Linked DNA regions of Homo sapiens: all the other regions are linked to region 1. Evidence: fine-mapped QTL for protein levels in blood plasma. A gene starts in region 1. Each other region holds a variant in brackets. All regions are shown on one strand. Distances are between the middles of the regions.

What was found. PIP is the chance, under the fine-mapping model, that this variant and not a neighbour inherited with it causes the effect. Protein levels are from antibody-based Olink assays in UK Biobank. Linkage for the fine-mapping came from a reference panel and not from the study's own genotypes, which makes the PIPs less certain.
Region 2: its variant is fine-mapped to the plasma level of the ADGRB3 protein (UK Biobank, PIP above 0.99). The variant lies in the coding sequence of ADGRB3. If it changes the protein, the assay may bind it differently, which can mimic a change of level.
Region 3: its variant is fine-mapped to the plasma level of the ADGRB3 protein (UK Biobank, PIP above 0.99).

What each region holds. Positions count from the first base shown.
Region 1 is chr6:68,630,282-68,638,815 of GRCh38, reverse strand. It overlaps ADGRB3 (adhesion G protein-coupled receptor B3), which reads right to left and starts at 3,534. Exons shown (of 32, transcript NM_001704.3): 1 at 2,816-3,534; 2 at 1,254-1,425; 3 at 1-155. The coding sequence starts at 140. LOC127898563 reads right to left here and starts at 2,926. Exons shown (of 1, transcript NM_001414704.1): 1 at 2,849-2,926. The coding sequence starts at 2,926. The coding sequence ends at 2,849. It overlaps ADGRB3-DT (ADGRB3 divergent transcript), which reads left to right and starts at 4,492. Exons shown (of 2, transcript NR_125872.1): 1 at 4,492-4,631; 2 at 5,760-6,153. RefSeq lists a silencer at 3,586-3,795.
Region 2 is chr6:68,950,742-68,958,741 of GRCh38, reverse strand. ADGRB3 (adhesion G protein-coupled receptor B3) reads right to left here. Exons shown (of 32, transcript NM_001704.3): 7 at 2,554-2,718; 8 at 1,933-2,097. Among named protein-coding and RNA genes, the nearest start is that of ADGRB3, 320 kb to the right of the region's middle. The variant T/C (reference allele first, on the strand shown) is at 1,950.
Region 3 is chr6:68,959,742-68,967,741 of GRCh38, reverse strand. The region is part of intron 8 of ADGRB3 (adhesion G protein-coupled receptor B3); the gene reads right to left. Among named protein-coding and RNA genes, the nearest start is that of ADGRB3, 330 kb to the right of the region's middle. The variant T/C (reference allele first, on the strand shown) is at 6,049.

The DNA.
Region 1 (8,534 bases):
ATTTCACTTACAGAATACGATCCATAAATGACTCCCTTCACCAAAGTTGAACACCAGAAGTCTTGGGCAGCATTAAATCCAAACATAACCAGGAGATAGGTGGAAAATATATAAATCAGCAGGTTACGAACAGCCTTCATCCTATGTCATTTGGCCTGTAAAAATGGCAATGAAAGTAAAATGCAAGTAGGAGTCTACGTGCATTGAGAAAATAAACTCCTTTCAATATTACAGCCAGCTGTTTTCAAGATTTCAGTAAAAAGCCCTTTTTAAAAGAAGGGCAGGTAATTTTTATTTTATAACACAGGAAAATTATCTGTTGCTGTGTGAACAGCGCCCTCATGTGGCCATTCACAATGGTCAAATTCGCAACATTCAATTTAAAAATAACATTTAATAGATTATTAATAGGAATGCCCTAACTTATCTACTAGGATATCCTCCACGTCCATTATCATTCTATCGAATGAAAAGGGAAAACATGGAGTTTTAAAACGTCATAATGTAAATGTTAATTGTCGAAATAGTATTAATCAGTCTATAGTCTATACAACCTTTTCTCTCTCTGTCCTCTGCGGTAAACACTATCATACAAAATCTAATCTGATAATCTGGGAACAGCTGTCATCACATTATTTCTCTCCTCTTAAACGTGAAAAGTAATGATGATAAATTATGGCCACAATTTTAAAAGCACAAATAATAATTTATTACAGATGGAACATCATCTCCCAAATGCCCCACTTGCCTTTGCAGGGGCCACCATGTGAACTGCTCAGAAATTCCTTTGCAAAAACATGGGCATTCATGTGGATTAGTTAATTTTAAAACCATCATTTGAGAAAGGGCATAGATGGATAAATACATAGGGAAGACTTGTTGTTCAACATCACCATTGAGAACCAGGATTTAGGGCAGTCATTTCAATGTGACATGCCCTTTTGGGATACATAAAGTGGATCACTGTATTAGTATCTGTATCCAAAGGTGATATCAGTTAAAAAAAAAAAAAATCCAGAACCATAGTAATTGAGCTGGTTTCAGTCTTTTAATTTTTGAAAAATTATCTTATCAACTGTAATTTAAGGCTTACACATGGTAATAAAATACATTAACATTTTTGTTCCTAGCAGATTTCAATTATTAAATTGCTCCCTTTCCAACAACAACTCCAAAGCTCCTCTTTTCTTTTCTTTTCTTTTTTAATTTTAACCCTGGCTTTGGATAATAAAGTAGTCCTTGGTTATATTTACCTCTGTAAGTTGTTATCCAAAAATAACTTGAATATTTTTCAGCTTTAACCTTTAAGAAGTTATTTCTTAGAATAAATGACACTGCTTTTGTTTGTTTGTTTAGCCTTTGAGCTGATAAAAGTGATGCCAAGTTAATTTTAAAAGTCTTTAGGCTGCAGTCTCTTCCACTGTTCTGTAAACAGAGACAGACATACAGACATATAGATAGTTAAGAGTTTTCATGCCTTTGCCTGGGTCTTCTCTGAATCAAAGGATAAAACCCTCTTCCTTCCCATTGCATAACACACACCAACGCATGCACACCAAATCCAGTGACCGAAGTCCCTGAAGATAGATCTGCATTTTCCAGATTATAATTCAAATTCTATGTCTTGATATAGGCAAACACAGCCCCAACTCTAAATCTCTATATAGCAGCAGTTTAAAATAACATCAGAACTGCTGGGACCATCAAAACAGTGTTCTCTGTTTCAAGCAAATAGCTCAATGAATAATGCATTTTCTTCATGAGAAAATAAAGCCAATGAGCATTTAAAGGTTAAAAAAAAACAGAGAAAGTTGTAAGAAATTCTGGAAATAATTTCCTTTTTTTTTTTTTTTTTTTGGTGTTGCACTTTGCAGGCAATGCAGGTCTGCGCAGTGTTCTTCAGGATAGAGTGTAGGCGTTGAGAGCCAATGTGACAATAAGTGTCTAAATTAGGAATTCCATCCATGAAAGGGGACTTCATTTTATAATCAGGAACTCAAAAAGAGGTCGTATGTCTTTTCCTAATGAAATTGGTACTTTTGCTTTCATTTATTTGACAGTGCATGTCTGCAATGCCGTGCTCATCAATGATCAGAGAGTGAGGAAATAGCTCTGAATTCACTTTAATGCCTGCTCAAGAGAGCGCACTCAATATAATGCTCTTTATTTTTAATCAGTCTGGAGTACACAGTCTTATTTTGTTCTAAATAATAAAAAATAAATCATTACCCTCACCCCCCTTTGGACTGCAGGGCCCGTTCAAAAAGCCGTGTTTCCCTCTTAAAGAAGGGGTGGGGGCGGGGGCAAAGGCTGGCCACGGAGGTGTCAAGGATGTTTTATTTATTTATTTATTTATTTATTTATTTATTTATCTCTTGCTGAGAAGCAAACCAGCATTGAGTTTAGCTATTCTCAAAACTGATTTTCTGGGTGACACTTTAGTTTAGTCGAACATAGACGGCGCCATCACTCCACAGATTTTTCCCCCCAATAGAAGACCCACTGCCTTCTCTTAACTTCCTTTTAACCTAAAATTTTCCCCTCATAAAATTACCCCAATCACACAAAACTGCCAGATTTTCTAGGTCTCTCCGCTTATTCCTTCTGACCCAGCACATCTCTTGAAAACCAGACTTCTCTAACTTTTCAACTGCGGCGTTTAAGTAAATGCAGACAGTCGGATCTGCTCACAGCCTCCCCATCCGCCAGCAACAGCCTTTCCTTTCATTTTCCTCCCTTCTCAAACATTAAGCCCAAAGCTCCACGGTGGCGACCCCCGGCAGAGAAAAGGTGACCCCTGGACCCCCTTCCTTACCTTCCACTCCGAAAGCTCAGGGAGGCTCTTGCTCTAAGACACCAGCACAGGCACGCGTCCCAGCAACAGTGACGGAGAGACTCCCCTTCGGTCCCAATCACCGTTGCCCATTTTCCCCGGCTCAGCTTCCAAAATCAGGATTTATTTTTAAAAATGCATACATACGAAAAGCAAAAGGTGGGGGGTGGGAACCAAAGGGGGGTCGATGAGAGAGAGGAAAAAAAAGCCAGCAGGAGCCCAGAACCTTGCGCCGTATCCAACTGAATCCAACCTCCAAACCGAGGGGGGCTAAAGGGAGGGAGAAGCCCCCCCAAGGGAGACTCTAAGGAACCCCCCAAAATGTAAGTGGCTTAATAGCAAAGATTTGTTTCATAAAAGCTACCCCCAACAAACCAAGAAGCAAAGAAAGCGCTGAGACGAGAAGTGACCGGCGGCGGCGGCGGCTGCTATGGCAGATTTGTTGGGGCGGTGGGTTTATTACAGGAGTATTCGTGGTCGGATCGGAAGGCTCAAGCTTATGCTTTTTCCTCTTTCCGCTTTCCTCCCTCCTCCTCCTCCCCCCTGCAGGTACTGATGGACGGACGGCGACTAAGGAGAGCGGGGAAAAAAATCCTTGGCTGGTGATGTCGGAAAGCTGTTTGAATGCCCAGCGAGGAGGGAGGCGCGAGAGGGAGCGAGATAGTAAAGCTCTGTCTCGGGTGTGCGCGCCGGCGCGCAGTGCTCGCTCTCCCTTGGGCGCGCGCGCGGGGGGTGCGCGTGTCCCGGGAGCGCGTCCGCGCGGCGGCCTCCCGCGTGCTCGTGTGCGCGCGCGTCCCGGGTGCCGCGCGCCCTTCTTATGCACAGCTGCGGTGCGCCCCGCCGCCCGCCAGAGGCTCGGCTCGCGCGGCGCGGCCGCTGCGACTTCCTGGAGTTCTGCCTGCCGGGGGCGCGGGCGGGTGTGTGAGAGAGAAGGCGAAGGGAGCCGCGGGGTGGGAGAGGAGGGAGTCCCGGCGGGAGGGCGGGGGAGAGGCTGGCGGGAGGGGGGCTCCACGGAGCTCCAGCCAGGGCCGCGGTTCGCCTGCACGTCACGGCTACTCAAACCCAAGCACGTCCCGAAAGCGGTATTTTCTGCGTCTGGGAGGTTTTTGCATCCTCAGTTCCCACCGCTGGGGCTGGCGGCGACCAACTGTAAGAGAAACTCACTGGGAGGCGAGGCAGGGGGGTGCGGAGGATGGGAAGGCGACTCTGAAGGGTGGGAAGTGAATGCTGGACTTGATCGTCTTTCTCTTTCTTTCAGCGCAGACCTGTCGCAGCCAGAGAGCTGTCATTTCAGTACCGGGATTCAGAATTGATCCAGTCCGCAGCGGAGGGGGCACATCCCAGCTACCGAGCTGCTGAGTGTCTCTGGCTGGAACAATAGTATTTTTTTCTCTGCGAGGCTGCAATTAACATCTTATTTGTTCTGGCTCCATACAGGCTTTGTCAGGATCGCGGTGCGGCGACCGACGTTGGGCTCTTGCATTGCTTTGTGCTTGGCAATGGAATCATGGTTTCGGGGTCTAAACTTTTGTTTCGTTTTGTAGTCTTAATGTATCTGATTCTTTTTCAAGTTTCCCTAGTAACAGGTTTGGGGACGGGGTGGGAAGAAGCGAGAAAAGGGGTGAAGAGAAAAAACCAGATTATATAGAAAGGAAAAAGGGAAAAGGGATGTTTCCCCACCTTTTAATCTAACTATCTATCTGTCTGTCTATCTATCATCATAGATAGTCATTTTGCCTCCTGGACAGTTGGCTGACGAAGTGTCTGATAAACCAGCTTCAGATACATGCTACAAAAGGTCATTCGCCTCCTGATTATGTTTCTACTTGTAAACGCAGTTGGTGGTTTGCAAAACAAGTGCTAAAATAGTGCAGTGATGTGGTGGGAGGAAACCATAATGGGTAATTCATATAAAGTGCTGGAATCTTCGTAAGGGTGAGTTTCTCGAGCGGCAGGTGAAGTTGAATAAAGCAATTTTCCATCATTTGTTCCCCTCACTCTTGCATTTTTTTCCTCCGCTTGTTTCTCTCCCCTGGGGCGATTATGGATAGCCAAGAACACCATTTTAAAAGAGATTGATAGTGAAAACAGGAAGTTTATGGTCTGTTATCCACTGGAGTTGTTTGAAATATTAAAATTGGTCCTTTACTTCTTAATGCATATTAATAGAGTGACCCTCTTCAAGGCTTTCCCGTCTTAAACGAATGCCTGGGATAAACACTGTAAGGGGAAACAGTTAATAATTCCCCAGCAGGCTTTAACTATTTTCCCAGTAACAAATCACCGGCAAGAGAGCAGCCTGGGTGGCATTTTGGTTTTGTGTCATTTTGGTTCTTTACAATATTTTTTATTCATTTAAGGAAATGTTAAAAGGAAATAATTAGGGTTTATGTCCAGAACAAATTTTGAAACACCGTTTAAGCAACACATTTTCTTTTAAAAACAAAGAACATTGAGCAACACAAAGGAGAAAAACATTTTATTTATTTCAACTTCCCTAGAGATCGTAATTATGATTTTCGCAAGGCAATTTGGTCAGTTCTGTTACTTTATCCAGAGGAAAAAAAAGCATGACAGATGTGGAATAAAAACGGAGGAAAAAATGCTTTGGATGGTTTATACATAAAAAGGAAAGAATGTAATGTGAGGTTCAGTTATACCTCTATTTTGCATCTAGTGATTTCTCATATTATCTTGTAACACTGATTTTGATGTTTCTTAGAAATTCTTAAAGTCATGACACAGTGGCATAAGAATAACAGCTGAAAGGGACAATTTAAAAGCCTAAATCCTAAATGGAAAGGTTCACTTACTCCCAGGATCATTTATATTCAAGTAGAAGTCAGGGCAGGGTCAGAAAAGAAAGCCACCCTTAATAAAGCGCTTCACCCTTCACATTGTTTCTCATAACCTTCATAAATTGCAGGCTACTGAGCTGGCCTGATGATGATCCTTCTGAGATATATTTATAGCAGATGATTTGTGGATGATAACTACGCCAAGCAAGACACTGTCTCCAGTAACCCCAGGCTCGTCTGACTTCCTCAGGGGATTATAATAAAGAATCACAAAAAGAACCCTATATGGACAGTCTGGTCTCTGGACACTAACAACAGCACAATCCAAAGGCAAAGAAAGGAGGAACCACCTTGTTTCATGTCTGCAAGCTGCTCCATATGAAAGCATTGCTGACATGTTGACCCAACAGCAAAAAGAGAGCAGCAGTTTACACACCCTCAGCTCTCTGTCCTTTCCTTTCTATTGATGTTGGTCCACTTTTATGACTGAATACATATTAAAATCACCATTTCAAATTATAATTATCTGCTTTCATTGGTCTCTTTCACAAGTCTATGTCTATATTTATGTTTACATATATAAACACATATACACATATTTTATACATACATATGTATATGTATGCACGCATTATTTGTAAGTACACATACACGTGTGTGTATATATATGTATATGATATGTATATGTGTATTTCAGTTGATACACATATATTTGCTTGGGAAGTTTCACTACATTGCTTTGTATTTCTCTTTTATAAGGTAATGCATTTAATTCCAAAACTACCACATTAATTGTATAAATTGATTATTACATAAGTTTCCTTGATGATTTACAGAAGAACTATTGAGAGGTCAGTGTTAGCACATCAAAATATAGTCTGGTATGGCATTTTAAATTGACCCAGGTATCTAATATTAAAGCCTTTCAAATTTATCTCTCCTGCTATTATTTTATTAAGATTACTTTGGAATGATGAGGTTATAAGTGTGATTTATTTCTGTTTCATCTTTTTGTCTGTATGTGCTAAGTTTAGTCCCTCCACTTTGAGAATAACCCTATAATCCAGGATCATTGCTTAAAATTCAGTATCATTTGCAGAATTCTCATACTCAAATAAGAATGTTTCTAGAATATGTTTACTCAATTTTAGAAAGTATTTTCTCTTTCCTTCTTTCTGTCATAGTTTTTCTGATATTACTGTATTACCACATTCTAAACTCTGTGACTTGTTATTTTCAGTAAGGCTTTAAGAAGCATGGATAGGTTTGTAGGTTATTTCTTGTTAAATATGCCTTAATTTTTTAGTATTTAGTATTAGTATTTAGTTTTTAGTATTTAGTATTTAGTATCTCCCATATATATATATGCACACATATATATATACACATATATATGTACACACATACATATATACACACACATATATATACACACACATACACAAAGCTTTGGAATGTTAATTAAATGATCAAAATATTACAAGATTACATTGTTATGAGAACTTATCCTTAATATTAGCATATTTACTATAAAGTTAAACAACTTCTTCTCCTCTGTCTCCTGTTTATTATCATTATTTTATTATTATTAAAAAAGGAAGTCTCTCAGAAACCAAGCTGTATATCCTCTAGTCTCTATGTAAAAAAACAAATTGGTCATTTTCTACTTGGACATCCCAGAATAGAAAGTACATTGAAGTACTAAAAAATAAAGGGATAGACTTGGGGTTAAGGGAGATGTCATAGAACAGCTATCCTGGGTTAGTTCAAGTGTAGTCCTATTCCATGCTAGGCAAAGTCAAGGTTACAAAAATCCCAGTTGCATCAGGTTTCCATTTTTTATCATTATTTCCCTATACAACGATACAAGTTAAAAAAAAGTCGGTAAATACTTTTGGCCATCAATTTTCAAGATTTCATTGGTGATATTAAGGAAATGCTGTAAGTAGGTAACACATAATGTCATATTTGTGTGCTGTAGAAGTATCTTGGAAAATATGGACTTTAAAACCTCAAAATATGGGTTTGCAATCGAACATACATTCACCCCCAAATTTGACCTTTTTCAGCTAGTTATTTTCTCATATAAAGTTACTATACTTACACCATTATCTTTAATCCCTGAAATTTCAATTATACTAGAAATCAAGATTCTTCATTTTTACTCACGAAACTGACACTAAGTATATACCTCATTAAGGACAAGAAGCTATGAATTCTCTGGACTTCAGTTATCTCACAGAAAAGAGCTTGATTGAATAATGTCTAAGGCTCTTCCTGACATAGTCTAAATAACAGAAGGTGTCTCACAAGAAATGGAAGCAGTGAGAGAAAAATGCAATTAAATCCTAGACTAGAAAGAATCACAATTTTCCCACTCACAGGTTGGAAATGCCTCTCTATTCTATCACAATTTTGAAAACCTCCATAGTTTTACTAGCTTTGCCTTTCTCCCTTGCTATCATCTTCTGAGGTACAGACAGTCCTTTCCATTTTTATTCCTCTCCCACTCTGATAATTTTTTTCTTTGACAGAAGTCCCACTTTATCATTAATGATGACAATAACTAAGGCTGCCAGGAACAGCACATCTGCTGAGCTTTATCAACACCAGGTATTGAAGTCTATGGACTACCTATTATTTCTGAACATTTATTCATGTTCAGTCCTGTTTCTACCAATTCTGATCCACTTATCTCTACCATTTCTCTTCCTGGCAGATTCTCTCATTTTGCCTTCTGGATCTCCATGCTTTTTTATACCAACAAACAAGAGGAAGAATATTCTCTACCCACTTCCTTGACTGAAGCCTGCTCTTTTATGAAGACATGGCATCTCTTCCAACCGTGTCAAACAGATGCAATTTATATGTCTGCTGCTTCCATACCCTGATTAAATGGGTCA
Region 2 (8,000 bases), 320 kb before region 1:
GAAAAGAGTAAAATGAAAATGTTAATAATAACAAAAATGTGTAGTGTATATAATTTTTTTTTTAGTTTTATGTGATATTTTTTTAACCTGCCTTAAGTCATGAAAGCCAGCAAACAAGCCCGGCAAATAAGGTACACTATCTTTTTCATAAATAGATCTGTAAAATGTTTTTCAAACAGCAGGTGGCAATCTCTGTAAATTTGATTGCAGCAGTACTATCTTGGCTCTATATGTGCAGATGAAAGACAATTTTAAAAGACCAGTTAAGAACTGTGGTATGCCCAGACTGGTTTAGATAACATCAAATATTGAAGGGGTTGATTTAATTATGCTTACTATTCTGTGAAATTTCTCCCTAGGCAAAATAAATGTTTTTGTTTAATACATCTTAATTCTTCTTACGCAGCACTGGAAGAATTTCACAGTGGTAATCTGAATAGGTATCATCCTCTTAACAACCCTGCATGCTGGTTACTTTTTATCATATTGAATTCATATGGTGTTAAGAATTAACAAAAGTAATTTTAGATTTTTTTTTTTCGAGACAGAGTCTTGCTCTGTCACGCAGGCTGCAGTGCAGTGGTGCAATCTCGGCTAACTGCAACCTCCACCTCCTGGGTTCAAGCTATTCTCCTTCCTCAGCCTCCTGCGTAGCTGGGATTACAGGTGCATGCCACCACGGCCGGCTAATTTTTGTATTTTTAGTAGAGACGGGGTTTCGCCACGTTGGCCAGGCTGGTCTCGAACTCCTGACCTCAGGTGATTTATCTGCCTCAGCCTCCCAAAGTGCTGGGATTACAGGTATGAGCCAACATGCCTGGCCCTAATTTTCGATCTTTTTTAAGCCCCCACAAAACTCCAACTGACATATTGTTACTCTTAAAATCCAGTTCTGTTGTTATTCTTAGTGTTGTACTGTGAGAAGTCTTTATAATACTAACTTTGGAAAAATACAAAGCTTTGACTCCTGGATAGCTCTTAGAATACCTTGGTTCTTCTAAGTTGAAACAATCATGTGAGATAAAGGCAGAAATTCATAGCATTCTGAACTGAAAAGGAACCTCAAAGATCTCACAACCAGCTGTACTCACTGTACCCCCAGGAATCAGACAGCCAGAGAGATCAGTCAGCTTGCTCACAGAGTTACTAGCAGCAACAGGATTCTAAGTGGGTCTTCAAATTCTCTAGGTTCAGCACGTTGGCACTATATTGTCAAATTTTAAAATTCTGTCCTATCACATCTTTAGTATACTTATAATATTTTTCTTAGGATCTCATTCTAAAATCCTGACTTTCACTTACTTATTGAGTCCTCAGTGTGTCAATAATATTTTAATGGAAGGTACACATGATTAGGAAGGAGTTTTTGTTCTAAATGATCCTGTAAAATATGTGCTGTATAATCTGGGCAGTTTCTGACCTTTCATTATTTTCTCTGCTTATATGTAAAATCTTTTAATGTAGCAGGACTTTCATTTTTTCATTAGCAATTAAGACTTTATACTTTCATTTTAAAATGCATTCCTCATAGGAATTTCCTTTGCCAATGAAAAATGGGGCAAACGCAAGTAAATGTAGATAATCAAGGTCACACATCAAGGTCAGAGTAATTAGCAACAGAACTTAAAAGCATCTGAATGTCAGCGACACTTCTTTATCTTCTCATTCATTTCTTATGTCTTTACATTTCCAGTATATATATCCTAAGGCAACTTGTTTTGTAATCTCCACAAACAAATATTTCACATGGAACGATTCTATGACACATAAACAGGGGATGCCCCACATAGTACAGAAACAAGTAAATTGCCACCTATCATTAGTAGTTCTTTAGTTGAGGAATATGACCCTTAACCAATGACAATATTTTTAAATCTTTTTTTTTTCACGTTATGAAATGTTTCTTTTGGGATAATTTGGGTTCATTCTCACCAGGGCATCGCTGCTCA[T/C]TGCATCTTCTCACTTCTTCGCCCGTTCCTTCACATTGCTGCCCTGTTATCACTGCACCCTGACAGGTCCTTATTCGCCTTTCCCAGCCGCCATCACAGGACTTGGAACAACCACTCCAATGACCCCACTGATTCCATTGACCATTGGCTGAAAGAAATGTTTCATGGTCAATGTCAGTCATCTACCACACACTCCTTTAAAAATTTTAAAATCTGAGAATGTTACTACCCCTTCCATTTTTGTTAATCTACTACTGTGAATAAACCTTATTCAAATATTTAACTTACAGGTCAAATATAGAGCATTGCGAAGAACAGTGTAAAAAAGTGTAAAAAGTGCAAGCTCAGTGCTAAACTTCCTCAAATGTATTCGTAGTTCATCTCCTGAATTTTATTACTTTATTAGCATGGCATACATTAGAATAAATTCTGGTATAATCGGCTTCATTAATAAATACATGTATACACACACACACACACACACACACACATATATATATAATGATTATCTTCTTTCATGACCCTCTGGCATAGTTCTGACACATTTTATAATGTGCCCTTTACATGGTACGAGTGCCCATGATATGCAGGAATCAAGCCCTACCTGTACATTCAGGGTTATAGCACTCTCTGCTTTCTGCCCATGGCCCTCTGCATTCGGAGCCTCCATGGGCAGCTGCAGTGCACTGCCGGCTTCTCTGCTGAGTCCCATTCGAGCACGTTACTGAGCACTGGCTCCACGAACTCCACTCTTGCCACTGTCCATCAACTACCAAAGCAGAAAAAGAGACAGCATGAGGATATCTTCCAATAGGACAAGCTGTACAGAAAGTACCTGGTAAAACCACCCTTGAAGATGAACCCCAATCAATGGACTATGAATGAATACAATGGAAGGTCACACCAGCATGAGATTTTATTAACTCCCCAAATATTATTACCTTATTTTCCCACTTTTATTTTATTTTATATATCCAGCATATCTTTTTTTTTTTCATTTGGAGATGGAGTCTTGCTCTGTTGTCCAGGCTGGAGTGTAACGGCATGATCCCAGCTGACTACAACCTCTGCCTCCCAGGTTCAAGCAGTTCTCTTGCCTCAGCCTCCTGAGTAGTTGGAATTACAGGTGCCTGTCACCACACCCCAAAATAATTTTTGTATTTTTAGTAGAGACAGGGTTTTACCATGTTGGTCAGGCTGGTCTCAAACTCCTAACCTTAGGTGATCCACCTGCCTTGGCCTCCCAAAGTGCTGGGATTACAGGCGTGAGCCACTATGCCTGGCCTCCAGTATATCTTTTGATTCACTTATTTCTTCAAAAATATTTATTGATCACTCAAAGATGCAATACATTGTGCTAGGAGATGGGGTACATGAAATAGTGAACAAACTAAATACTGAGCAAGACCTTATCGAGCTCATATTTTAGAGAAAGAACCCCTAGAAATAAACCATGAATTACATGCTAGATAAATCAATTACATGGCAGTGTTGCAAAGGATAGTTTCAGGACATTGTGAGATAAGACTTTGGAAGGTCCAGAGAGTCTTTCTTGACAAACCGAGGCTTCAGGCAAGCCTTGAAGGATAAAGAGAACATACTTAGGATAAAGGTATGTTCCATGCAGAGGAATATACAAAGATCTTTGGAAGAAGAATCATGGGCATTTCCAGGAACTGGATGAAGGTCATTGTGAAAGGCATCTAGAGTGCTGAGTGAGGAGAGATTGCAGAAGTTTTAAAAAAGAGAGAGGCTAGATTATGAAAAACTTTCATCAGCTGTGTTAAGGATTTTGGATATTATTCTCAGGTGTTTAAGAAGCCATTGAACACGCCTGTAATCGCAGCACTTTGGGAGGCTGAGGCAGGCGGATCAAAAGGTCAGGAGATCGAGACCATTCTGGCTAACACGGTGAAACCCCGTCTCTACTGAAAATACAAAAAAATTAGCCGGGTATGGTGGCGGGCGCCTGTAGTCCTAGCTACTCCGGGAGGCTGAGGCAGGAGAATGGTGTGAACCCGGGAGGTGGAGCTTGCAGTGAGCCAAGATTGTGTCACTGCACTCCAGCCTGGGGGACAGAGCAAGACTCCGTCTCAAAAAAAAAAAAAAGCCATTGAACGATTTAAATAATACATAATACCATAATACTATGATCAGATCTAGTGTAGGATTGAGAACAAATTACAGAAGTTGGGAAGGATCTGAGCTGTGATGATGAGGCAGTGCAGATGCAGTGTCTTGGAGAGATTAGAAAGTTACTAGGAACGGGTGGTAAGAAGAAACTGAAGAACTGGCCATGGGAGCTGATGCAAAGAGAGGATCCAGGTGACTCTTAGATGGCTGTTTTCTGATGACTGGAATGTAATATAGACTGTTCAGCTTGATTTATCTTTGGGAGATTCAAATTGAGATTCATGTATTAATTCATTCAAATAATTTTGAGAATCTATTAGTCATCAGACACTGTGATAGGTGTTAACAAGATACACAGAAATAAAAGAATATAAATCCTAACCTCAAAAATTTTATAATTTAGGACATTCTGCATGCAAATGAATAAATAAATAAATAAATGTTTAAAGACAATACCATCTTAACATGAAACATGAAGTATTTAGGCTTTCAGAGGACATACTGCATCTACTGGGGATGTAATTATAATAGACACAGAGTGGTGAGTTATGGACAATTTAGACAAAGTCAGCATTGACAAAGGCACAATCCCATATGCCACAAAATAGAAATAAACAAAGGATTTAACCAAAAATACTTTCTAGATTAGAATGTGCAAACTAGCATGTAAAGGTTATAAATGCATCAGTCTGTGGATGTCTACTTTTTTCCAAGATCAGTTCATTGTTCTTAGTCAATTTGATCACAGGTGAAAGAGAATTCACCACAAATCTAAAGTTTCAAAATAAGCTAATGGTGCTATGAAAATCCATCCAAATAAACAAGAAAGCCTGGCAGAATATAATAAGTACTTTCAATCTAACTTCAAGCCTTACATGTAGGTATTAAAAAGAGATTGTTTAACAGGCATCCAGCTGTACTTAATAAACCCTTTATGAGATTAAAAATCACAAAATGCCAATTTAATCATTCCATTAATGTAATTTTAGCATCTCACTTTATTACAAGTGCCTGATACAATCATATTGGTTATGTAGTCTATTTTCCAGACTAAAAAGAAAATTCTAGTGAAGCAATAGGATATTATAAATTATCTATTTCCCCTCTATTTTGGCTTTAAACATGAGTGCATTTTTCATTTCAGAATTTTTCTATTCAAAGATAACATTTATTGAGCTTGCAGTATGAAGCCTCACCATCCTAAGCATTCTGAGAAGGGTTTATAAAAAGAGATTCATGCCCTACACCTTACAATCTATTTGGCAAAAGGATGTACAGTTATCCACATTATTGAGAACATTCAGAAAGAAAGCAGCACATTAACAAAGGTGAATTAGGTGCTGCTAAGCTAATCTTAGTGCTGAGTGACTAGAATAAAGGACTATGTGATGTCCTTAAGTATTCTGCTTTAAGGTAAATTTTGAGTATGATTTATTATGAATGCAATAGTTATATGTTTTCTGGCAAAGAGAGAATAAGAGTGTCTAGCAAAGTGTGGCATCTAGAATGTGCAAGTCAAATGTCGAAATCAGAGAGAAGATAATTTGGCAGGGGACTGTATTTCTATGAAGAATTAGGAAGGACCTTGCTGAGATGATATTAGGAAGAATGAGAACATCTATTTGTGAAGTGTTTTGCTCCTCAGGCTTTTACTGAAATAAGACTGCATCAATAATAATAAAATGTTTTGAGACTTTAAATTCATATATTTGTAGTTATAGTTGTTCAATCCTTTCTAACCATGTACATATTCTGTGTTAATGTTAAAGCTTAAGAGTGTTAATATTAGAAATCTGAGGAGCAATTTGAGGTTCAACGCTACCATAAACATCAACAAAACATGTATTTTAGATGGGGTCAGTTTTGTTCACAAAGTCAGTAACAGAGAAAATAATGAAATTGAAGATACATCAAGTGGGCATTTTTTGCGATTTTATTTTACACTGAGAACCAAAAGATCCTTTTTGAAAATTAATTGCACTTTTTTTTGCAAGCTTTTTAATTTTTTTTTATTATACTTTAAGTTCTAGAGTACATGTGCACAACGTGCAGGTTTGTTACATATGTATATGTGTGCCATGTTGGTGTAATTGCACTATTATGAAGGAATTGGCTTGACAAAATAACTCATTGGATATGAAAAACAAAAGAGGAAAGGCCTAATATTTCTTTAGTGTGTCAAGTCCAAATCATTGAGAAAATAGATAATTGAAAAGTCAGGTAGGAGATGAATATATAAATTTAACTTAAAAAACTAGACAACAGACTATATATATATAAACACACATGTAATATATACACACACATACATATATACAGACAACAGACATTTTATGTATATATATAATTTTTAGTGTCAAATATGAGACATTGTTTTATTTTTAAGTTTTTCTTTTCAGTGATATTCTGGATTAAAAAAAATTATTAATGGATTTGTTTTATGGGCCGCAGCCCCATAACACTTCTAGAAACACTAGTGTCATTTTACTGAATGAGAAAAAAATAGAGAACAGGGAGGCTTTGGGGGGGTAGAAATTAAGAGTTCTGTTTTGGATATTTAAGCATTTCCAGATAGAATTTGTGCATTATCTTTTAGGGATAAATGTAGAGAAATGTAAAAATAAAAACAATTTATCATATTATATATCTCTATTTCTTTTTTTATAAACACTCATCTAGGTTCTCCAAGATGTGAAGGAACAGCTTTTTTCTTGTTATCTGATGTTTAACTGGGGAGCTAAAGTGGTGAGGAAGCTGCTTCTCCTTCAACCCTGCAGGCAGGCTTGACTTTTTACCGGGCTCAGCAGCGAGGTAGTAGAGACAATCAATGTCTCTCCCCACTCAATGCCTGCTCCTTGTGTATGGCTTACTTCCAATATTTGTAAGAGGGACCTCTCAGGGTCATTGCAAACCTACGAATTTAAAAATACCTCAAAGCTTTCTTTCTGAAACTGTCTTTCTATTGAAAACTGATTCACATCTCAGCATTCTGTCAGAAAAGAGTTCCCTGGTAAGCTGGGAAAACGTAAACACTCCACAATCCCTCCTGGAGTCTCGTAACACACACAGGAGTAAAGATTTATAGAAAATTTAGTCTGTGATTGGCATTGCTCAACTGCGCCACGGGGGAGCTGTGGTGATAAGGACTGGCTGAGCTCTGCTCTTATGAACATGTAGTCTGGGGGCTGTAGTGGGGGCAGATGATAAACGAGTAAATGAATAAACCAGAGCGTTTCACTAGAGGTGTTATGAAGACAACGTGATAAAGAGGGCGATGTGATAGGGAGTGCTCAGGCAGTCTCAGGAGACGACGATATTAGAGCTGAGTCTGAATCACTGGACAGAGCCAACTCTTAATTTCCACCTCCCCAAAGCCTCCCTGACCTCCACTTTTTTCTTATTCAATAAAATGACATTAGTGTTTCCAGAAATGTTATGGGGCTGAGGACTGTAAAATAAATTCACTAATATTTTTTTTAAAATCCAGAATAACACTGAAAAGAAAAATTAAAAATTAAACAATGTCTCATTTTTGGCAATAAAAAATCTTTTACATGTAAAATATCTGTTGGCATGTGAAGATCTGTGTTCAGGAACAGAGAGAAGACTGGGGCTTGTGGGGATCCTGGAAAAGGAGAGGTGGAAAGAGATGGGTTCAGATGCTGTGCAGAAGCCAGATCTTATAGGGCCCTATAGGCCATGCGACCAGGGAAGATGCAAAGTATGAAAAGATTTTAAAGAAAAGAAGTGATAAGATAGAATTTACATTTTAAAACCTAATATTGTGGTTTTGTGTAGAACGGATGGTACAGGGGCAAGAATGCGTACTGTGAAATATTGGAGGACTATACTGTATGTAGTCCAGAGAGAGCTGATGGTGGCTTGAATTATGGTGGCATCAGTGGGCATAGAAAAAAC
Region 3 (8,000 bases), 330 kb before region 1:
ATACATGTTTTTAGCTGATTTATTTTTCTCTTTTGGCTAGATCTGTTTTTGAATTACCCTATTTCTTAAGATCGCAGAGAATGAAGATGATTTTGCAAAAATACTGTAGACGTTGTGTGTGGGGCGGGGGTGGAGGTGGGGGGTGGATCCTCTAGCAGTAGATAGCCGTGTCCAGTTAGGAGCAGAAAGATAGGGAGGTTAGCTACTACAGTTACCTTAAAAATTAGTCAAAAGATGTTTCCAGGGTATCATGTAATGACTAAGTTTGGCCTTGGAGGGCTATATCTGACTTACTAAGATCCTATAGGACCATTTTTTAGAATCCCCCAATGTGCCCTACACACATCCTCACTCTGGTTCAGGAAGAAGCTGATTAAATAGTTGTTTTCCTTTGACCAACCACATCTTTCTATTACTGAATTTTATCTTCTTAATGACTATCAGTTTGGTCTGCCTACAAACAGCCAAACAAAATGAAAAGCAAAAGTCAATAATTTTTTAAACCTAGAGATGTCAACAACTTTTTGTTTTGTTCCACAGTAAATTTATGAAGCCTTGGATTCATTGTGCTTCTTGGAGACAGAAATCCACTACACAAATTATTATTATTTTTAAAAAGGAAGATGGCAGGGGAAATCATAGATTCACAGGTGCAAACTGGTCCAGGGTTTTCAGCTTTTTAGTAGTAATGTCAAACGGTACAGCTGCTTTAACTATTTTATCAAAGGTGACTTGGCATTCTTTGAAGAGTCTATCTCAGAAAATAGGTCGATTTATGCTTATACCAAAAGCAAAATAGCTTTAGACATTAAAATAACAATTGATTTTCTGCCATCTCATCTTTATGAATTCCCCAGTAGTGGGATCTTTCTAGGTACTTCTCAGTGCCACTTATAGAATTCATTCATTCAACAAATATTTACTGGGCACCCAGCATATCCCAGTCACCTTGTTAAATACTACACATAGAAAAGGCTAAGTAAGAATAGTCGATGTCTCTTGACTCCTAAAATGGTCATAAAGATGATAATTTGAGGAATTACAGTACACAGGATGCCCACTCTAAGCTGAGAAGCCCTGGCTGCTCTGGGAGTACCTTAGGGAAGAGTGTGTCAGTGGAAGATTTCCAGAGGGATGTCCAGGTTGAGGTGTAAAGGAGAAGCAGGACTTCCACCAATGAAGAAGGGGAGAGTGTGTCCTGGGAACCACATGTGGGAAAATCCAGGGAGCAAAGAGAACTGGGAATAACCAAGAAGGTGACCGTTTCAGAAAGGGTAAAGTGTAAAGTTGGGGATAAGTAGAGGTGGGTGATTCAGCAGGAGGAGGGGTAATATATGATGAGGTAAGCAAGGATCTTGACTTTATATTAGGGGCAAGGGAAATTTATGACAATGTTTTAAATGCTTGCTATGCCTGCAGTTTGGAGAAAGGGTTGAAAGAAAGAGAGCTGAAGACAGGGAGGCCTACCACAATCTAAATGATGTAATTAGGGAAGGGATGAAGAATCATAGGATGTAGATTAATTCAAAATTTATTTAGGAGGTAGAATGGGCTCAGCACTATGGCTGATTGTATGTAAGAGGTGAGGAGGATAAAGAAATAAAACACAGAACTCAGGTTTCCAGGAAGGATATCTTATGTGCTAGCGAGACCCTGAACTACAACATGTGAGGAAGAGATGACTTGGGAGAGGAGATGCCGAAAATAGTTTTGAGTTTGACATATCTAGGCACATACAGGTATTATAAAAAAGTTAATTGATATATATGATGGAATCCAAGCTCCAGAAGAAAACAAGCTAGAGATAGAGATTTGTTTTAATTATTTTTTCTGTTTAATGGCACTTGTGTGTGTTTTGTAAATTAGAAAATAAACTAGCTGAGGCTGCTCTCTAGACTGAACATAAAAGCATACGATTGTGCAGCAATAGGAAGGATTCTCTCTTTGTATGCCTTAGCTAAAAGGAATAGTAACTTTGTTCATCAGCTCAAAGATCTCACTGTTTGCTCTTACTAGTGCAAAGATATAAAAATCCATTTGTAAGATACAACTATACTTGAAGTCACAAGTATGTAGTTAGCATGCCCCTTAAAGTAAGGTAGCAATTACCTAGTGATTAGCTGTTAATCTGTCTATTCAAACTGATTTTCTGTCTCTTAAAAAGAGCAGAAATGATACAGGGCTTAAATCAATTTTGTGTGGAAAATTAGTTTTTACCCCATATGCTAGAATTTCAGCATTAAAAAGAAATTGATTCTAAACTATAGAGCTGATATACACACACACAAAAAAAAAACATGTACTACTCAAGAACCCACATTTCAAAATTCGCTTGTTGGCAATTCATGAATTCTTGTGTTTGGGGAATTCCCTGTGCTGGAGGATGCAGAGGAAAATAAGACGGATCCAGTGTCTGTGCTCAATGACTTACAGCTCTAATTTCCAAGGTGGTACCTACTCATGTGAAGAATTCATGCTGCTGCTAAGGTCTGTGGGAAAAAGAAGAGTGTTTATGAAGTGTGTTTCATAACAGCATTCCTCATATAGGAAATGGTTTTAATCTGTCTCAAATGGAAACAACATACAATTATATCAGCAATATTTACATAACATTATGAGTTATTGTTCTTACTGTGTTATATATTTTAATTCACAGAATTCTTATAACCTTGTGAACAGAATTGTTATTCTCATTTTAAACATGAGGAAGTCAAGACAGAAAGTGTTTAGTGTTTAGCCTGAGGCCACTAAGCTAAGAGATGATGGACCTATGGTCAATCAAATAGTTGAGTCCATTCTCAGAGAAGTTTACCTCTTCTCTAAGCAGAGGAGTCTTTTTATTGTTATGGTGGTAAACAAGTTATTTATACATTTTGCAAATATTTGTTTTTAAGTCTGGAAGTTAGCAAACCATGAACTTTCAATTTATTAGCAAATGGTATATATTGCAGATTGTTTAAGTACCTGGTGGACAGTGTTATATATACTTACTCATAAGCAAATTCTGTATTATTATTGCATAATTTTATATTTAAACTTAGCAGACAAGGTCACTCTAGTTTCAACCTGATAACAAAGTTAATTAAAAAATTAGCTAACTAACTTTGAGGAATAACTCTAAAAAGCTATTTACTAACTTTTAGTTATACTGAATTTTATACTGGGGTATGCTCAACATTTTGCTGGAAAGTTACGTTTACTAAGTTTCTGTATTACCTTAGGAACAGCCAAAGACGACAGTGAGTCTTAGCCTTCTCTAGGTCATAGCATATGTAGAAATGATAGTATTTGGAGGCACACTGGGAGAAGTAGGCAAGGCTACTGAAGACTGGAGACCACTAGCCACAGTCTCCTGCCTTGTCAGTTGCTCTGAGGCTTTAGGAACCACTATTTGGGCACAGCTGGGACAAATCCTCCCATGACAGGGTAGAACTGCCTTGAGAAGCTCTGGCTTAAAATAATAAGCTGGGCTGAGATTTGGGGAAACTGAACAACTCGCTATAGAAACATATATTTTTCCTACCTCCCATATCTCAATTACTTATTTCCAAAGAAAGATGAATCATACCACAATTTATAACTACAATATAAAAAATCATATATGTGATAGAAATGTTCTTCCAGTAAATCAGTCCATTGAACAGACTTTTGAAACACTGAAAGGCCATGAAATGTAAGACACTAACATCAGAGTCATTGCAAACTTTTTATTCATATGCTTTTATATAAATGTTTTCATTAGTTATAGCTTTTATCATATGAAATAAAAACATTCAAAAGGGCTTGACCTATTATATTTAACTAGGCTCAGTGAAGAATCAGGGATTCAGAAGGCTGAGAACAGATAGTTCATCTGCAATAAGCTGGAATTTCAACAGATATAATCATATAATAATAATACTATATAATAAGGAAATATCAAACAAATTTATAGGGGTTCAAAGAAGAAAGAACACTTATGAGATTGTGGGAGAAAGAATTATTAGGAGAGCAGACATCTCTTAATGGATGGGCTCCCAAATTCTCCCCTATCAACAGATGAGGATAAGAGAGGGGACAGGGACATTAGGGGAGCCCAAGTGAATAACAGTGCAAACAGCACCATAAGGGGAGAATATGCACCCCTGTATTCAGAAACCAGAGGCTGCATCTGCTTGATTCTATCACATATGAACAAATGTATATTAAAATATATATCATAAATGAGTAGGATGAGATAACATTGGAAAGCTATTGAAGCTGATAGAAATATTAGAATCTCAAGGATCCCAGTAGGATGAAATTTGGCCAGTAATGAAAAGCCACAGAAGTTTTTGAGAAAGCAAGTCATAAGAACAAGGCTATAAAGAAGAGAGAATAATCAGATAAATCTGTGTGGAAGAGATTAGAGAAGGCAGGTGTTGTCATAATATGGGTAACAGAGTACATGAACTGCCACTTGATGATCCTAATTAGCTCCAGCATTTCATCCTTGAAATAATCTTCTGCAGCACATATTATTATCCCTATTTTATAAATGAGGACACCAAGGCCCAAGTCGGTACTTTGTTGGACTCCATAGTTCAGGCTCTTCCTGCTGCACTGCTCCTCCCTTACTGGAAGCTGGTGGCAGGAGGAAGTGAAAGCAGGGCCACTGAGAGAAATACCATGATGGACTCCATCTGGAACAGGGATTGCTAGAATGAGGAATCACTCCAGATGACACAGAGGATCTGGTGATCAAAGAAAAGTTTCCCCCAGTTACCCAGAGTCTGAATTGAGTCCCAGGTAGGAAAGCTTTATCAGGTTTTTGTGAGTGATTAGACATAAAGGTACATTCATGGGTGTTGCTCACAGAGGCTATAGTTGATGAGAGAGAGATCAACAAAAGAGAAGAGTGCTGGGGCAGTCTTAGGTCATTCATATGTCAGGATACACAAGGTGAGAAAAATAAGTGTTGATGAGAAACATCAAAGACCAATATTCAGATTTAGTGTCTTGGTAAACATTAAGCTCAAAAAAGGTTTAAAAGTAATTTTAAATCTCTTAATTTAAAATAATTGTTAAACAGTTCCTAAAGTTTATTTTTTCCCAGAAAAACAATAAGGGATGAAAAGAATAAATAAAAAAATAGTAAAAGGTGGTGCTTAAATTTTTCTTTTCAATTTGAGAATGATCAGCATGTTGCTAAATATTTCTAAATTGAACAAGGTAGGGTAATATAAGATTACAGAAAATTGCTTTTTAAGCAATTCATGGCAGAAACTGTAAGAGTCTGATCAAAGTCTCATCTGAAGAAAATCTGATAAAATGAATTATGACAATAATTATCTCCATAGCAACAGGTTTGAATAATGGGCATCTGGTATACATACTGTAGCCACAGTAGTACTATCTGTTATTAATTCTTTTAGATCTCAGCGGTTCTTCCCCAAGTCTGCCCATACAACTCAGCTTGATTTGCTGCAGAACTGTAGACTAAAATAGGTGGTAAAACTCATCCTTTTTGAGAAGATTGGATACTATTTTAGGTATTTATTAAAAGCAACAGGTGGTCTCTCTCATCTATGGGATATCTTCAAGTTCTAATTCATTTTCCTGCTTTTTACTATTTATCTGAAGTGACTTGGCAAGAACAAATAGAACATTTAATATTAAAGAAGTCAATACCTAGTGCCACCTACTGTCACCATTAAACTCAGTGGCTGGTTTTAGGTTAACAACTGGTATGGACACTTGAGTAGGGCCTAATTTGCTATTCCCAAAAATATGCAGTCAAAACTTGCTTTAACCTTTTGAAGAATGCAACAGGTAATAACATAATTCCTTAAAGAGTATACAGATAATATCTGAAAGCAGAAAATAATATAAATTCCAAAGGAATAGGAGCTTTAAAAAGTACTATTTGTGCTTAATTAAATAATATAAATTCCAATGAAATAGGAGCTTTAAAAAGTACTGTTTGTGCTTAATTAAACTTGGTTTGAAATGAACAAGGTAAAGCAGGTGTCAATTTGTATGCAAATATTTCATTATGGAGTAGTGTATTTTCTCTTTAGAAAAGAAATG[T/C]AAATTTTATGCTGACATATTTGGGTTTCTAATAATGATTACATTCAGTCTTAAAATTGAGTGGTTCAAGAGTTTAGTTTAGAAGAATCTAACTTGTTAAATTTGTCTCAAAGACAAAAATATTTGTATCAGTAGTGATTAGTTCACTATTCTACTAACTGGAACCTGAGGAGAAAATAAGTCAAAGTGAGCTAAGACCTCATCTTCCTCCATGACACCATCCCCACACCAAGTATTTTATAAGTGTATGTGTATATATTAGCTAATTAGCTAATACCTGTGGGGGATAAGAGGCAGGGAAAATATACTGCTCAGGAAGAGAGATGCTGGGGCTGACAACATCAGGACTGCAGATCTGTGTCCTGGCAGTGCCTGGTTTTACATCAGACTTGTTCAAATGATACCCAAGTTGTTTCTCCTGCTCTTCGTGGTAGAGGAAAAATGAGGATTGGAGAACTGAGAGTTGGATAATGACTAAACCATCTTTCTTTGTGCACAACAGCTAGTTAATAGTCCTATTTTTCTTTAAATGACTGCTGTAAAGAGATCTTATTTTGGCTGAAACATGAGTTGGCTAGAGGCATTCAAAATGAATTGTGTTTTCATTATCAACCAATTCCAGAAAGAATCCCTCATCGTTTATGAAAAAGGATGAAAAAAATAAAATTTTGCAATTTTGTTGAGGTGATATTTCAACTTTCTCCAGTGGAACAGAGGTAGAGGACTGTATTCCACTTCTTTGTTAATTTTATCACCTTATCATTATTATTTTTACTATAAGTTAGTGCAACTGAAAGGATGATTTGCAGACCAGCATCTTCAGCATCACCTGAGACCTTCATAAAAATGCAGATTCTCAGGCTCATTCAAGACCTACTGAGTCAGAATGGCTGGTGGGGTCTGGCTCAGGAATCTGTGTTTTAACAAGCTCTCTGGATGATTCCTATGTACACTGAAGTTTGGGAAGCACTGCTTTGGACAATGAGGGAGGCACTCAAAAGAAGATAGGAGTGCAAAGTAGGCAAGCTTTGTTCTTCTTTCCTACTGAAGCTAAGTTAAAAGACAATTACTTAGAGACCAAAGGAAGACTCTCCTGGTCTCCAGAGGAGGCATAATCCTGTTGGAGAGCAACCTTATACAAATAAGGAACCGTCACTTCCAGAATCACATTTTTCGTAAGCAGGGTGGGGATGGGGATCACATTCGCTATATTATAGGGCACCAAATCCTAATACAAGTGTATTACAGTGTTCAAGACAAATTTTGCATTACCAACACTACGGCTGCCCTCCTTTAGTATGAATATTTATAGATAAACATCACAATAATTCCTACATTTCTGGTCTAAGTTGCTAATATTGTATACATTTATGATATGGCTGACTTACTTCACAAGTGTTTATCAGCACATTTAACCTGGAGGCCTCACCCACCACTTACAGACAAAGCAGCTGTGGTTCCAAGAACGAAATTTTATGTATAAATAAAGTGTAATTTTTACTTGTAAATGGTAGGTTCCAACTTAGCAGTTAATGACTAAAGAGTAATGATCCTAGAATTGGAGTTATAGAAGTAGCAAGCCCTTCTCCTGGGAGCAGGGCAAAGTGGTTCCTACGAAGCTAGAATGTAAACTTAGGACAGTCCAGCAGTAACACTTGCTTTCTGAATATTATTAACCAGGGGAATATTGGGGTGAAAATCAAACTAAAAACCTAAAAAATATTATGTATGACATTGTAGCAATTAATAAAATTAGGGGAGCTATTACCATCCTACCATTTTAACCTTCAAAGCCTGAGGATACACAATGAGATTGAGATAAATGAAACCATTATCTGGTGAGTCTGACCAATTTAAAAATTGGACCACTTATTATCTTCCCTGTAGCTATTCTATAGCCCAACTAGCATTATTTTTAAAAAATGTTTTCTTATTTCTACAATTATTTTTTA